Linked DNA regions of Homo sapiens: region 2 is reported to be linked to region 1. Evidence: microRNA targets listed by miRTarBase, many of them from high-throughput screens and not tested one by one. Region 1 holds a microRNA gene; the other region holds the end of a gene's coding sequence.

Region 1 (4,450 bases):
TTATTTTTTTGAGACAAGGTCTTGCTCTGTCACCCAGGCTGGAATGCAGTGGTGCAATCTTGGCTCACTACGTACAACCTCAGCTTCCCAAGTAGTAGGACTACAGGCACAGGTCATGTCACCATGCTGGCTAATTTTTTTTTTTTTTTTTAATAGAGATGGGGTTTCCCTATGTTGCCCAGGCTGGTCTCAAACTCCTGGCCTCGAGTACTCTTCCCACCTCAGCCCCCAAGTTCTGGGGTTACAGGCGTGAGCCACCATGCCTTGCCTTTTTTTTCTTTTTGATGTTATATATTGTTTGAGAACTCTTAAGTTCCTTTGTGAAATTATGCTTTATAAAATGTCTTCTAGGATTCATTTGTGGGGGGTCTAACAACCGTCTGTTTTCCATTGATTTCAATTTCTGTGGGCCATTTGGGATGTTATTTTATAGATTTTTTTAATCCATTGGAAATAGTGAGGTGCCCTGAGAAAATTTATTCACATGTAATGCGTTAAATCTTACAAAAGAAGAAATATTACTGAATGATATAGACTGTGTTCATAGTATTAATCTCTTCTCTCTTATTTTTAAAATTTAGTTCTATTGTTTCCACCCTGCTAGCTCTTATGGATGGATTGGACAGCAGAGGGGAAATTGTGGTCATTGGTGCTACGAACAGGCTAGATTCTATAGATCCTGCTTTACGAAGGCCTGGTCGCTTTGATAGAGAATTCCTCTTTAGCCTGCCTGATAAAGAGGTAAGAATTTAATGTCACTCAAATTTTGACAAAATATATTGCTGTTTATTAATAATAAGTCTTGGTATAGTAAAAATTTGGAGATTCTTGAGTTTTGTATCATGGTCTTGTCAAATGATAGTAAACAACTCAAATGGGGACAAATTTTTATTCTTTTCTTTAAATATAATAATGCCTTCCCAAAATTACTCTTAAAATTATTTCAATTTGAGTGTAGCCTTTGGATGTTCTAAGTGTTGCTTCAGAACATATGGCTTAATGAGTAATCAATCCTTAGCCAGTTTGTTAGCCTTGTCTTTTTCATGAATATCATCATATAATCCTACCGAGTTTTTTTAAGTCTACTTAATCTTCTGGGAACCAAAGAGGAAAATATGTCAAGAGCTGTCTGTACTCTTAAAAACAGCTCTTAATATGCACCAGAATGAATAGCTACTTTAGTAGTTACTTTTCTCTTATTTGTGTTTATGACGAATATAACTTTAGTGCTATAAATGCAAATATGTTTAATAATGAGACTTAAGTTCATTAAACTCTTAAAAGTACATCCTTTTTCTTATTTTCACTTTCATATTTTGCTTATATTGAGTTTTTTTGGTTGGTTGTTTATGATAAAGTCTTGCTCTGTCACCCAGGCTGGGGTGCAGTGGCACAATCTCAGCTCACTGCAACTTCCGTCCCCGGGATTCAAGCAATTCTCGTGCCTCAGACTCCCAAGTAGCTGGGATTACAGGCACATGCTACCACGCCCAGCTAATCTTTGTATTTTTAGTAGAGAGTGGTTTTCACCATGTTGGCCAGGCTGGTCTTGAACTTCCAACCTCAAGTGATCCACCTGCCTCGGCCTCCCAAAGTGCTGGGATTACAGGTGTGAGCCACCGCACCCGGCCAGTATTAAGTACTGATCACTTTAAAATTTTAGATAATCAAAAGTATTTTAATCAAAATTAATGTAATCTGAATAGCATTTATTATTATAGTTGTAAAAAATTAAATTGTTTTTATTCATAGGCTCGAAAAGAGATTCTAAAGATTCACACCAGGGATTGGAATCCCAAACCACTGGACACATTTTTAGAAGAGCTAGCAGAAAACTGTGTTGGTAAACATTGTTTTAAGCAGTTAAAATAAATACTACATTTATTTCAAATATGAAACAAGTTATATTAGGTTGGTGCAAAAGTAATTGTGGTTTTTGCCTGTAAAAGTAATGGCAAAAACCACAGTTTCTTTTGCACCAGACTAATAAAGAAATACAAGGTTATATTTGTTTCTTATCTCTTATTTGTGGCATTTTCTTCTCATGAAGTCTTGGTATTAAATAGAGATATTTGACAAATTGGCCATCAGGGGCAGAGTAGATAATAATATAATTGTACAAAATACAATATATTATTATATCATAATAAGATAATAGCTATTCTTTACTGACCATTTTGTAGTCATCCTTTTAAGCATTTTACATATATTATTTCATGTAATTTTCACATCATTCCTGTGATGTAGGTAGCAGTATCTCTACAGATGAAGAAATGGCTGGAGAGCATTATGTGAATCTTCTAAGGTCATACAGCTAGTAAATTACAAACTGGAATGTGAATCTAGTCTGTGTGATTTTAAAACTCTTGCTTTTGACCTCTGTGCTATACTTAGTGCTTGTGTATTGCACTCTTAAAAGTTGATTGATTGTTGATGGCCATTACTACCCTATAAGTTTACTGGGTAAAAGAGATTTTGGTCTTATTACTCTTAAATATTTGCTAACTATATTCCGAGGCTGATTTTTAATTTTTTTTTTAACCATGGTCATGCTAATAGAGTTTTGTGTTTCTTTGTTTGGTCGGCTGGTTCTTTTCTTCCCCTGGTTGCTTTGGATAGGATACTGTGGAGCAGATATTAAATCAATATGTGCTGAAGCTGCTTTATGTGCTTTACGACGACGCTACCCACAGATCTATACCACTAGTGAGAAACTGCAGTTGGATCTCTCTTCAATTAATATCTCAGCTAAGGATTTCGAGGTAGCTATGCAAAAGATGATACCAGCCTCCCAAAGAGCTGTGACATCACCTGGGCAGGCACTGTCCACCGTTGTGAAACCACTCCTGCAAAACACTGTTGACAAGATTTTAGAAGCCCTGCAGAGAGTATTTCCACATGCAGAATTCAGAACAAATAAAACATTAGACTCAGGTATAAAACTTGATTGACCATTTAAAGTTAGTTTTTATAATCAGTAAAGTGAAATGTTTCATACATACCAGAAATATTTATTTGTAAAAGAATCTCTTGAAAAGAATTTGGTAATGCTTTACCTGGGATATTTGAAGGAAATTTACTCCATGGATTGCCCTTAATTTAACTTATTGTAAGTTTGGGGTGCATTTTTACATTTACTTATTAATTCATATCTACACAAATATTTTTGATTCTTTGAAAAAATTTAATTGAAGTATGCTGACTTGGTAACTGAAGCAATAAAGATTTGCTTTGCAATCCAAAAGTTACTAATGTACAATTTTTTGGTTTTATAGATATTTCTTGTCCTCTGCTAGAAAGTGACTTGGCTTACAGTGATGATGATGTTCCATCAGTTTATGAAAATGGACTTTCTCAGAAATCTTCTCATAAGGCAAAAGACAATTTTAATTTTCTTCATTTGAATAGGTATATTTTTCTTGCAAATCAATGTTTTTTGCATGTGTAAATTTTCTAAAAATAAATGAGATGTGGTTGAAAAAATAAAAAGTGCTAACCAATCTGCTTTTTATTTAAATTAAACTACCAGAAATTTTTTGTTGTTACAGTTGTCACAACAGTAGAAATTACAGTCTATAAAAATATTCCTAAAAACCTTTGGGGGTCAGTTTCCAGAAACTATGTGAACCATGTTATGATTGGTTGGCCTTATTGGCAAGACTTTTTACTTATGAAAGTTTATAGTTGACAATTTAGGGGGAAAATTTAAACTGTTTTTTCTAAAACATAGCTTATTAATCATTTCTCTTTCAGAAATGCTTGTTACCAACCTATGTCTTTTCGACCAAGAATATTGATAGTAGGAGAACCAGGATTTGGGCAAGGTTCTCACTTGGCACCAGCTGTCATTCATGCTTTGGAAAAGTTTACTGTATATACATTAGACATTCCTGTTCTTTTTGGAGTTAGTACTACATCCCCTGAAGAAACATGTGCCCAGGTAATTTGTTGGTGCCCAAGTATAAGACAAAACAGGCTTTCAGAGGCAAAAGCTAAAATTGCCCCATTTTTTTGTATTGTGTTTTTTTGTCTTTCTGATTTGTAACTTTAGGTTTACAAAACAGAGTTATGCATGATTGCTTAGTCATTAAAGAGAATGACTTTAAATCCCACATTCACCCTTAATATCTTTGTGACCTTAGTAAAGTTGTTAGATCTCTCTAATTTTCCCCTTTTGGAAAATGGAGATAATACTACTTACCTCACATGGCTGTTGTGAGAATTAAATGAGTAAAGTACTTAAAATGGTGACTGCTCCTTAGTAAGTACTCAGATATTCTGCAGTTTCTGTTTTTGGTATTTGTATATTAACTTTTTTTTGTTTGTTTTTGGTTTTGGTTTTTTTGAGACGGAGTCTTACTGTGTCACCAGGCTGGAGTGCAGTGGCACGATCCTGGCTCCCTGCAACCTCCGCCTTCCGGGTTCAAGCAATTCTCCTGCCTTAGCCTCC
Region 2 (4,000 bases), not on the chromosome of region 1:
TGTGGTACTCTGAAATCAAGGGTTATAATCAATTACAGAATTGCTCACTTTCCTTTAGTGATGGAGTCTTCCCTCCTTGTGATTATTCATATCAAAATGAGTTCCTTTCCCAAACCAATAACAATCTGAGTGGATGCATTTGATTACTGTTTTTCTAACATTCTGATTTTTCTATTCCTTTACAGAGCGAATGGTCACAGTTGGTCGCTGGGCAAAGGGAATGAGTGCAGACTATGAAGAAATTTTGGATGTACCTAAACCGCAAAAACCCAAAACAAAAATACCTAAAGTTGTTAATTTTTGATAACAGCTAGCACTATCATGAGTTACTACCTCATTGTTACTTTCTAAACCAGGCCCGCTTCACGAGTTAGAGTTGAGCTCCCCTGTAGCCAGGACTATGCTGTAGATATCAGTATGATCTGGGTGTGGCCAAAAACAATTTTCTTTATTCTGTCTATCAAATAGTACTTCTACCACTGTTTGGAGAAAATTGAAGAAAAGAATAAGATGATTAAATGAATTCTCTAAAAGAACATATTTTAAGAGACAGAACTTAGACATAACCAAGTAGTTGTATACCTGATTGTAACAATCATCTTTTATAAAAGCAAAATTATGCATAAATGTAAAACACCCCTAAACAAAGGGAACAAATGAATTTTTGGTTATATTGTTTTCTTGGCTCAAAGTATCAATTTATTATTATAATAGAAATTTATAAGTTGCTAGAAAGTCTATATTTTTAAAGTACGGAATAAAAATATGTTTTCTATTAAGCAATAGAAATATTTTTGTGTATAATTTTTCTGAATACTTGATTCTCGATTGAAATATCCATTGTTCGTTAATATCCATGTAACAATCCCATTGGAAACAAGATTTTTTTTGAATCCTAGATGAGAATAAACAGGGATTTGGTTTTTGTTTTAGTTTTGACATAAAGGATTCCAAGTTACTGAAGTTAAAATTGAAATATCTCAGTTTAACAGCAGCTCTTTTTTGCCCTTGATTTTCAAGAGAGAACTTCTAGCCAAAATTCAGTTTTTGTTACTTAACCAGAATGATGGCAGATAACAGATGGTATAATAAACTTAATAGCATTTTGTTCTCATGTTTTAGATGAGTCAGAGTAAGATGGAAGTATCACCATAATAGAGTTAGAACACTAATCAGAGACCCATTAGCTTCTTTGTTTGATTTGATGAATTCATGCATACTTAATACATATATTTCACAAGGCTTAACACTACCATTGTACTGTATAATGGAATGACTCTAGTGGTTTTGTGTTTCATTTGAAATTTTACCTGATTGAATCCATTTGTAACTAAAGGAAACAGCTGTGATTAGTTACTGATGCCTCAAAAGCAAAATATTTACCAAATAAGAAAAGAAACACTTTTCTCTGTTTTCATCTCTGCACAACTCGACAGTTCTAGTCTTAATAGGAGCTGTTCTTTTATTTCAGTGTGAGAGGAAAACATGACAAAATACTGCTCAGCATCCCAGAGCTTAAGGAAATGAGTGCTATTTAGAAGGAATTGCACAAGCCAGGCAGTTGGAAAAGGACAGTAATGCTGCCTTAGTCATCTAGTCCGAACGCACCCAGATTTATTTCACCTGTCCCATCAGGAGCAGAGTCTACAGCCTGTCAGCTGAAAGTTAGGTCTAATGCTTTTTGTAGTCTTCAGTGCAAGAATGTTGGTATCCACTTTGTCTTTTTTGGATTACTTTTTGTGTGTGTGTGTGTGTATAATTTTTTTTTTGATAGCTCACTCTGTCACCCAGGCTAGAGTGCAGTGGCACAATCTTGGCTTACTGCAACCTTTGCCTCTTGGCTTCAAGCGATTCTCCTGCCTCAGCCTCCTGAGTAGCTGGGATTATAGGCACGCACCACCACACCCCGCTAATTTTTGCATTTTTACTAGAGATGGGGTTTCACCATGTTGGCCAGGCTGGTCTCGAAATCTTGACCTCGTGATCTGCTCGCCTCGGCCTCCCAAAGTGCTGGGATTACAGGCTTGAGCCACCATGCCCGGCCTACTTTGTTTATATTTTAATGATCTATAAATATTAGGCAGTGAAGTCATTAGAAATAAACTGCAGGTACTGAATGTAACATTAAACACGTGTAGAGACACTAAAAGGAATGCACCAGAGGCAGAAATCCTGAGAGATCCTGAGTGTTCATTAAAAGGAACTATAGACGTTGGTTATTTTCTTAGCTAAAAATGCCTAAAGAGGAAGGCAAACAATTTATTCATTCATCTTATATATTTCCCAAGCACTACTATGTTCCTGTTACTCTTATGCACTTGAAATTGTGGCAGTCAGCAAGACAGACAAGACCACATGCATTATAATGGGGCTGAATAATGGACAGGAGACTTAGGGAAAATACCAGCAAGAAATGTTTTATTACATTCCTAAAATATTTTTTGAATCCCCTGAGACTTTAAAAAATTTTTAAGATGGGGTCTTACCCTGTCACCCAGGCTGGAGTGCAGTGATGCAATCGTAGCTCACTGAAGCCTCAAACACCTGGGCTCCAGCGATCCTCCCGCCTCAGCCTCCTGAGTTGCTGGGATTACAATAGGCATGAGCCACTACACCCAGCTGAATCCCCTAAGACTTAGTCTTTAGTGCTCCTTCGGTCTTTTGTAAATTTCATCTCTTCTTACAAACTTATCTTTCACTTTTCCATAAATGATTCCTAAATCTCCAGCTAGCCCTAAAATCCCAGGTTTCAGTCCCGTCTTTTCACCTGCCTCCTGAATGTTCCTACTGGGATGCTCCACTAATACTTCAAATTCAATATGGCTTTAAACAGACTCACTTTCCCCTGGGGAAAAAGTGAGTTTACCTTTTTGTCTCTTTTTTCACTACAATTATGTTCCAAGCCATGAGGCCTGAATCTCAAGTTGCTCTTTACTTGACATTCCCTCCAGTCCCCATGGCCAGCCCCCCATCCCTGCTTATTTCCTTCAGGCATCTGCTATGACCAGCTTGAGTCTTTCTATGACCATCCTTATAGGAAAGAGCAGCTCCTTGCTTCCTCATCCCAATACCTAACACTATAGCTCTATTTGTTCCCTCTCTACCAGATTATAGGTTACACGAGGGCAGGAATTTTGATTCTTGTTCATTGCTATATCCCTAGAAATGCTTGGAATGTATGAAGCATTTGCATTTGTTGAATGAGTTAATTCAATGAGTGATATAAAAGGAATCAACAGAGAGATGATGCAAGTGACTGGGTAGCTCTTAGATTGGATAATCAAGAGGAGGCCTCTGTGGAAATTTTAAAGCTGAAATCTGAATGACACAAAGGAACCAGTCTTGAGTTAGCCAAAACCCCTAAAGAGAGAATGAGTTTGCCATATGTGAGGGACAGAAAGGAGTGTAGCTGAAGCCTAGAGAAGGGCCACATCAGGGCTATTCTGACCACCCTATTTAAAACAGAATCTACATCTCCATCCTAACACTGGCACTCCTGGTTCCCCTTACTTTGCTTTATGTTTTTCTGTGTCATTTATCACCTTCTACCATATTAAGTTATTTATTATATGTGTCGTTTTTGTCCCATCTCTCTGCTAGAATATAATCTCCACGGGGGGTGGATTCTTGTCTGTTCACTGATATACCCCAAATGCCTAAAACAGTACTTAGCACATAGTAGGCCCATAATATGTATTTATCATTTGACGAAGTCAGAGAGGTGGTGGGGGCAGTATCACACTGGAAAATTTAGGAAGCCATGGGAAAGTTTTGGTTTTATTCCCCTAACAGCTTTATTGAGATATAATTCACATACGATAAAATTCACACTTTTAAAGTGTACAACTAACTGGCTTTTAATCTAGTCAGAGTTGTACAACCATCGCCATTAATTCCAGGACATGTTATCACCCCATCAACAGCCAATACCCTTAAGCAGTTGCTCCCTATCCCTTCCTTCCCCCAGCTACTGGCATCTACTAATTTACCTTCTGTCTCT

The links. Region 1 holds the annotated microRNA hsa-miR-548aa (AAAAACCACAAUUACUUUUGCACCA, at 1,914-1,938, opposite strand). A microRNA usually pairs through its seed, bases 2 to 8, with sites in the 3' UTR of a target mRNA and lowers its output. Matches are read on the target gene's strand: a 7mer-m8 pairs with bases 2 to 8, a 7mer-A1 pairs with bases 2 to 7 and ends in A, and an 8mer does both.
Region 2: the mRNA of ZCCHC9 is a reported target of hsa-miR-548aa. Seed matches in the 3' UTR shown: 7mer-m8 at 919-925.

What each region holds. Positions count from the first base shown.
Region 1 is chr8:123,345,576-123,350,025 of GRCh38, reverse strand. It overlaps MIR548AA1 (microRNA 548aa-1), which reads right to left and starts at 1,992; the gene lies at 1,896-1,992. ATAD2 (ATPase family AAA domain containing 2) reads left to right here. Exons shown (of 28, transcript NM_014109.4): 14 at 582-741; 15 at 1,753-1,843; 16 at 2,620-2,934; 17 at 3,276-3,408; 18 at 3,754-3,940. It overlaps MIR548D1 (microRNA 548d-1), which reads left to right and starts at 1,896; the gene lies at 1,896-1,992.
Region 2 is chr5:81,312,359-81,316,358 of GRCh38, forward strand. It overlaps ZCCHC9 (zinc finger CCHC-type containing 9), which reads left to right. Exons shown (of 6, transcript NM_001131035.2): 6 at 186-939. The coding sequence ends at 304. It also overlaps a transcript of ACOT12 not described here. Among named protein-coding and RNA genes, the nearest start is that of ZCCHC9, 13 kb to the left of the region's middle.